Linked DNA regions of Homo sapiens. The protein of the gene in region 1 purifies or fractionates together with the protein of each later gene. This does not show direct contact. Each region holds a gene or a part of one and is shown on either strand. Other genes may lie near its edges. The genes, in order: BRSK2 and CRAMP1.

Evidence for each region.
Region 2: the proteins of BRSK2 (region 1) and CRAMP1 purify together in Homo sapiens (affinity purification with mass spectrometry; one large-scale study listed by BioGRID and IntAct). This does not show direct contact.

Annotation. Positions count from the first base shown.
Region 1 is NC_000011.10:1,392,805-1,396,609, reverse strand, and holds part of BRSK2 (serine/threonine-protein kinase BRSK2), read right to left. Parts: intron 1-3,805. UniProt on the Homo sapiens protein: Serine/threonine-protein kinase that plays a key role in polarization of neurons and axonogenesis, cell cycle progress and insulin secretion. Phosphorylates CDK16, CDC25C, MAPT/TAU, PAK1 and WEE1.
Region 2 is NC_000016.10:1,664,240-1,668,044, reverse strand, and holds part of CRAMP1 (protein cramped-like), read right to left. Parts: intron 2,989-3,805; coding exon 2,907-2,988; intron 1,973-2,906; coding exon 1,868-1,972; intron 1,624-1,867; coding exon 1,445-1,623; intron 711-1,444; coding exon 645-710; intron 84-644; coding exon 1-83.

The DNA.
Region 1 (3,805 bases):
CCTTCCCGACGGCTCCTCCTGAGCGCCAGTGGCCGACGGGGAGGCACAGCCCACTCAGGCTGTTCCCAGGGACTGGGGTCTGACCTGCCCTCGGGCCAGCCTGGAGGGGGTCTCCTGTCTGCTTCAAAGCACCCAGAGCGCCGGAGCAGGGTGAGGCCATGATGAGAGGGCCCGGGGTCACTCCGCAGACTCGGGAGTGAGAACCAGGAGAGCTCGCTTAGGCCCAGGTCCGGGAGCCGGTCCGAGCAACTCTGGTGTCCTGGGGTACAGGCCTTGCTGGCCCCATGCAGTCCTCGAGGCGGCTGTAAGGGAAGAGGGACCAGGAGTGGGGGACGTGGGTGGAAGGGAAGAGGGACCAGGAGTGGGGGACGTGGGTGGAAGGGAAGAGGGACCAGGAGTGGGGGACGTGGGTGGAAGGGAAGAGAGACGAGGAGCGGGGGACGCAGGGGTCCACACACACCTGGCACAGCGACAACCTTAAGACACTCCCAGCCACCCTCAGAGCAAGGAAGGGACCTGGCCACCTCGGCAGCCAACGATGGTGGGGACCCAGAGGCCCTGGAGCTTGGGTCGTGGGCAGGAGCCACGGCCCTTGATAGTAGCTCCAGCTGGGCCTGCGTGAGATTTGCCAGAAACAGATCCCCTTGAAGCCTAGAGGCCAACCTCACATCACAGCCCAGGCCCTGCATTCCCCAGTGGTTCTGGACACAACTCCCTGCTCGGGCAGATGGTGGAGCAGGCGGGGCAGCAGCCAGCCACGGTGACTCTGGAAAGCCCTCCCTGGCACAGCTGGGGGAGGGGGCACAGCCTGGCCTTGAGGCTTCCACATCCAGGAAATCCACGGCGTGCACGCACCTCAGCAGAGCAGGGCCAGCACGGCCAGCACGATCAGGGCCGGGCGGTGCCCTCTGCCCAGCGTGTCTTTTCCAGCCATTGCCAGTGACAAGGCAGGGAGACCCACGTCAACAGGGACACACACACCTGAGGTGCCCAGGGCCACAGTGGGTGGGGACAGGACAAGGGCCTAGGGCTCCCGCCTCCAACGACCCTCCCGCCCCCGCCTAGGGGAACTGCCGTCCTCACCACCCGGAACCTCTGTGCCAAGGGCCCTGACAGGGACACTCAAGGCCAGCTCTCAGCTGGAAAGGGGGCTCCCTGTGGAGGGCATGCAGGGCAGGAAGACGCCAGGGGCAGCATCTTGAGGCCTCCACCCTGGCGCAGTCACTGACATGGCGCCCAGCGACACCAAATGGGCCTTTCCAGGGACTTCAGGGGGCCAGGGAGACTTCAGATGGGAGGGCTACCCACCATGCTGGCTCCCCGGGCTCTGTGCACGGCGCCCCTGAGAACAGCGTCCTGAGACCTCAGCTTGTAGAAACCCCGTGCAGGGCAGATGAGGGGTTCAGTCCAGCCCCAGGCTGCTGCTGCCCTGACAAAACAGCTGGGGTCAGATGGCCAGGGCCTGATGTGGGGAAGGCCACAGAATTCCTGGGGTCTCGCAGCAGACACCCCACGCTGAGTCCACCTTCACCTTCATGGCTGGGGAGGCTGCCGGGTCCTGTCTACCCATGCGCTCTCCGGGCTCAGCCCTGCACAGCCCATCTCCAGGGGCCCATCTCCAGGACCCATCTCCATGGCCCATCTCCAGGGGCCCATCTCCAGGACCCATCTCCAGGACCCATCTCCAGGACCCATCTCCATGGCCCATCTCCAGGACCCATCTCCAGGACCCATCTCCATGGCCCATCTCCAGGGGCCCATCTCCAGGACCCATCTCCAGGACCCATCTCCATGGCCCATCTCCAGGACCCATCTCCAGGACCCATCTCCATGGCCCATCTCCAGGGGCCCATCTCCAGGACCCATCTCCAGGACCCATCTCCATGGCCCATCTCCAGGGACCCATCTCCAGGACCCATCTCCAGGACCCATCTCCAGGGGCCCATCTCCAGGACCCATCTCCATGGCCCATCTCCAGGACCCATCTCCAGGACCCATCTCCATGGCCCATCTCCAGGACCCATCTCCATGGCCCATCTCCAGGACCCATCTCCAGGACCCATCTCCATGGCCCATCTCCAGGGGCCCATCTCCAGGACCCATCTCCAGGACCCATCTCCATGGCCCATCTCCAGGACCCATCTCCATGGCCCATCTCCAGGACCCATCTCCAGGACCCATCTCCATGGCCCATCTCCAGGGGCCCATCTCCAGGACCCATCTCCATGGCCCATCTCCATGGCCCATCTCCAGGACCCATCTCCAGGACCCATCTCCATGGCCCATCTCCAGGGGCCCATCTCCAGGGGCCCATCTCCATGGCCCATCTCCAGGACCCATCTCCAGGACCCATCTCCAGGACCCATCTCCATGGCCCATCTCCAGGGGCCCATCTCCAGGACCCATCTCCATGGCCCATCTCCAGGGGCCCATCTCCAGGACCCATCTCCATGGCCCATCTCCATGGCCCATCTCCAGGACCCATCTCCAGGACCCATCTCCATGGCCCATCTCCAGGGACCCATCTCCATGGCCCATCTCCAGGACCCATCTCCAGGACCCATCTCCAGGACCCATCTCCATGGCCCATCTCCAGGGGCCCATCTCCAGGGACCCATCTCCATGGCCCATCTCCAGGACCCATCTCCAGGACCCATCTCCAGGACCCATCTCCAGGACCCATCTCCATGGCCCATCTCCAGGGGCCCATCTCCAGGACCCATCTCCAGGACCCATCTCCATGGCCCATCTCCAGGGACCTGCACACCACAGCCCATCGCTGCCCGTCCTGCTCAACTTTCTAAACAGACCCCATCTCAGACCAGCTTCCTTCCCCTCCACATCTGCCTCCAGCTTCTGGGCCTGGGGTCACCCCCAGGGTCTCCCAGGCACAGGCTCTCCCTCCCCTCACCTGTTCCATCTTCAATGACTCCTCCCATCCCAGGACCCCTCTCCACCCTGGCAGCCACCAGGGCTCAACCTTCCTAAAGGCCATTGAGAACATGGAGGGGCGGCCCCAGGTCCCTGGCAGCCTAGGTCCCTCCCCCACGCCACAGCAGGTGAACACTGCCAGGTGAGCTGCAGGGCAGCCCCTCATCCTAGCTCCTTCGTTCCCTCGCAGGGAGCCCTATCGCGGCCATTATTCCTTTCTCCCGCCCCCCAGACAGAGGATTCCCGAAGGCAGGCCCCTCATCGTCCCATGCAGCCCACCCGCCTGCCCCCAAGAACAGCTCCAAGGGCCCGAGGTTCTCCAGCTCCTCCCACAGGGCCCTCCCAGGCCTCCCAGATTTCAGGAGCTAAGCCGAGGTTTGGGCAAGAAGGTGCCCTGCTCCACGTACTGATGGGGCACAGGGACAAAGGCGCGCAGGGACAAAAGCCACCCAGCCCGTGCCACACACCCTCCTGGACCTGCATGCTCCAACTCGGAGTGTCTGCGCCCTCCAACCTCCATGGTTGCCCTTGCTGGCAGGGACTGTGTCTCGGCATCTCTGCAGGGGTCAAGCTCAGATGAGGCTACACAAGCCTTTCTCAGCCCCAAGAAAAGCTAAGGCAGCACCTTTGCAGGTGGGTTCCCACCCCAACCCCAGCCTACATCCCCCTAAGTCTTGGCCAGAAACCACCAAGCAGCCGGCGAGGAGGCTTCCACAGATGCTCAGTGCTCTGACGGCTTCACCTGGTGCCTGGCACCGGCAGTGAGACCACTGAAGGCAACCCCCACAGCCACCGAGGGGAGCTGTGCAGAGGACGCCCCATGCAGAAGGACGACCCTACAGCCACACTGGCCCTGCAGGACGCACAGACCCAA
Region 2 (3,805 bases), on another chromosome or scaffold:
CTCTCTGACGAGGACAGCGGTATGGAGAGGCCATTCTGGAGAGGGGCCTTGGGCAGCTCAGATAAGGAGAGAACAGATGAGCCCTGCTGGGAGACAGGTATTTTTCAGACACAACCAGGTCTATCAGAACCCATGACAAGGGAAGAAACACCAGCTTACTCTCCTAGCTTGCAGGCAAATCAATAGGGTGATGAGCGCTGCAGTCACCTCATCCTTCCAACTCAGGAACACACTCGGGGAATTTATTTCTCCCAAAAACACTCACTATGGCAGAGTCAGAAAGTCAGGCTGCAGTGGCCTGGACCTGCTTTGACTGCTGCCAGAAAGAGAGTGGGGGCTGGGGGAGTTACTAGCTGACAGCCTCCTCCTCCCAGAAAGCTGAGTTCTTCCAGAGCGCTAAGTTCTTCCAGAGCTGGGTCTGAAACAGCCCACCTTGGAGAGGGGAGGAGGGAAGTCTGAGGTGGCGGACAGCCATATTCATTTATCCACCCTGGGCAGTCGGCACAGCAGGTGGAAGAACAGCAAAGCCACTGCACAGTCTAGGAGAGAAGCCGGGCCACTCCAAGACTGCAGGTGGCAGCTCAGGGCACTGGAGGGAGTCCTGGGGCAGCTGCTTTGCTCAGCAGCCCAAGAGCACACTCTACCTGGAAACTGTCTGCCACTGGCTCCTGCTCAGGCCTCGAAGGGATGCTGACAAATGGGTCGGAGCCCTGCAGGAAGAGCACGCCCATGAGCAGCCGCAGGGTGCACCAGATGCCACCCATACCCTCACCCGCGACAGAGTTCCAGAAAAAGAGGCGTTCCATCCCCCTGGCCTCCTAACAGCAGAGGGACAGTAAATGGACAGGGGTCTAAGGTCGAGAACACTGAAAGGCTACTTTCAGGTGTGGACCGTGTACTTCCAATTTTTTGTTGCTTCCAAGAGTGAAGTAAAGTCCTATCAGGAAGTCAACCTTGTGGCAGGCAGGGCTGGGCTCCCTGGAGTCTTAACAGCATCAGCCCACCCCACCCTCCTTGGGGCAGCTCTGAAGTGGCCGTGGGAGGCCAGAGAAACCAGGTGCTCAGAGCCTTGGAAAGGAGCAATGGCCAAGGCCATACAGGCTGCTCTCTTCCCAGATGAAAGAGATGCTCAGTGGTGTCCGAGCACAGCGCTGTGGGCTGCCACCTTGGTTATGGTCACTCTCAGATGGAGCTATGTTTCCACACCGTCTTAGCTCTGAGTTCTCCAGTGCCACATGGCAAGCCTGTCCCCACCTTTCGTCAGTGGCTCCGGAGGCCTCTCCTGCTCTGTACTACACAGAGTTTGCTTATGCCATGGCACCCCTGGTCCAGAGACTCTCCTCCAAAGGCAGAGCTGGAGTCCAGCGTGATCTCAGCCCCATGGCTTTGGCGTCCACACCAGAAGTTGGTGGTAATGCTGAAAAGCCCTTCTAAACATACTCACCCCCACGGTGGGGAGGGTGTCTCCATCCTGGTGAGTTCCAGTAGAGTCCTGCCCCGAGATGGCACCCGTCACCTCGTCTGAAGACAGTGGAGAGATGCCAGACAAGCCCTCGGTGTCCAAGGCAGGGAGGGGGTTCCCGGAAAGGATGCCGGCACTTGTAGCTGCTAAGTCGATAGCACCTGGCAACAAAAAGGACGCTGCACATCTCTGCTCTACTGACAACCCATAAGATGTCCCAAGAGGGCTCGGGGAACAGCTTCTCCCTCGCACCTCATGTCAATGCAAGAGCCAAGGGCTTAGATGTTCTTGGTGAAGGGTAATGAGACATTATGATTTGGAGAAGAAAACATTCAAAAAACCTGGTCACAAAAACATCCCTCAGAGGCTCACTCAGTGGCTGTGGCCATGCAGGTACAGACTTACTGGCCAGGTGACTCGTGGCCTGGGGTGGAAGGACCTTGGGCACGATCGGCCGAGACAGAGCTGCTTTGGTCAGAGAAGACTGGATGGGCCGGAACGAACCTCTCCCTGCGAGGGCGAGGGCAAAAGCAGACATGTCGAGCCCGCCCGCCATGCCCTCACAGCAGGATGTGGCCGCAGGGGGCTTCCTTTACAGCCACTGTTGGGAGTGTGGGAGCCGAGCCAAGCTGGAAGCCACTGAACATTCCAAATGCTAACATGAGGAGTCAGAGGTCACACAGGCCCCCAACGTGACACAAGCTCTGGCACCCACCACTGTGCCTCCCAGGAGCTACTGGAAGGCTGCGGTCACCACTGTCATCCTGCGGAAATGGCTCTTGAAGGGTGACAAGCCCCCAAGCTGAGGTACAGGCCCCAGGGCAGTCAGAGCATCAGATTCTGGACTAAGATGCTGCCACTGCAATTTGGTTTTATCTTGCCAGGCTTCCCACAGTTGAAAATTGACAAGTAGGCAAGAGAAAAAGCAATTGACAGCTGTTAAGGGTCTTGCAATAAGTCAGTGAGAGACGTGGAAGTCAACACTGGTAGAAAAGGGAAGTCACAGAGTATGTGTTTCACTAGAGGCTTCTCCCTGTGTAATATCTACCGCAAGGAGCCAAGGCCCCCACTAAATGTACAGACTGATGGAAGCATAATCCATACACCCCAAGAACACATCCATCCCATAAAACGGCTGACAAGACATTACACAGAGAGAGCAGACAAGAGACACAACTCTAACCAAGCCAAGCGCCTCACACAGGGCCATCTGAGGCCACAGACGAAGGGCACCCTTTGGACTAGCTGCCTCGCTGGACTAGCTGCCTCGCCCGCCACCGCAGCCTGCAGCCCAGCACATAGGGCACATTAGGTATTTGTCGGTAGAATGGACAAAGGAATGCCTGAAGATAGGCCATGGAAATAAGCACCCATTGTCTCCAAAGCCAAGGCCCTCCTGTGAGGAGGAGGGACAAGCTACCCCAGAAAAGCTCAGGGTCCTTACCAGTTACGGAAGAGTTAGACAGGATGGAGAAGGAACAAACGTTGTGGGACTGGTTTTCCGATGGTCTAGGGAGCAGTGTTCTCTGTGGGGAAAATGGTCAACAATCAAGGTGATGAAACTCCCATACCAAAAAATCACTCCCAGTTACAAAGGAATGTCCCAAGTAAGAGGGTGCCCAGCATAGCCAGGTGGGGCTTTTTCCAGAGCCGATGACACAGGGTACCTGGGACTGCTCAGACAGTTAGGACCCATGTACCCCAAGCTCCAGTTAGGTCCTCTCTCAAACAAACCCAGGTAATCAAACCCTCCCCAGGGAAACTGGAGGAATGTCAGAGTCATCCACTTTTTTTTTTTTTTTTTGAGACGGTGTCTTGCTCTGTCAGCCAGGCTAGAGTGCAGTGGTGCAATTTCGGCTCACTGAAACCTCTGCCTCCTGGGTTCAAGTGATTCTCCTGCCTCAGCCTCCCGAGTAGCTGGGATTATAGGCACTCGCCATCACGCCCAGCTAGTTTTTGTATTTTTAGTAGAGACGGGGTTTCTCCACGTTGGCCAGGCTGGTCTTGAACTCCTGACCTCAGGTGATCCACCTGCCTCGGCCTCCCAAAGTGCTGGGATTACAGGTGCGAGCCACCGTGCCTGGCCTGATCCACTTTTAATCCAGAACTTTCTTCTGGATTTGACTGGAATGCAACTAGTTATACAAACCTGTTTATAACCACTGGACATGGACTTTTAGGAGTGACACCTCCCATTCTGGGCTTCCTCACACATGGGGTGAGTAAAATAAAGTCACTGCTTGTAACACACAGGCACCAAAGGGCATGAAGTGCTCCTTTCCAGGGCTTTTGTGTGTGAACAATTAGGCTGAATGTGCTACGGCAGGTTTGAGTGACAAGGAC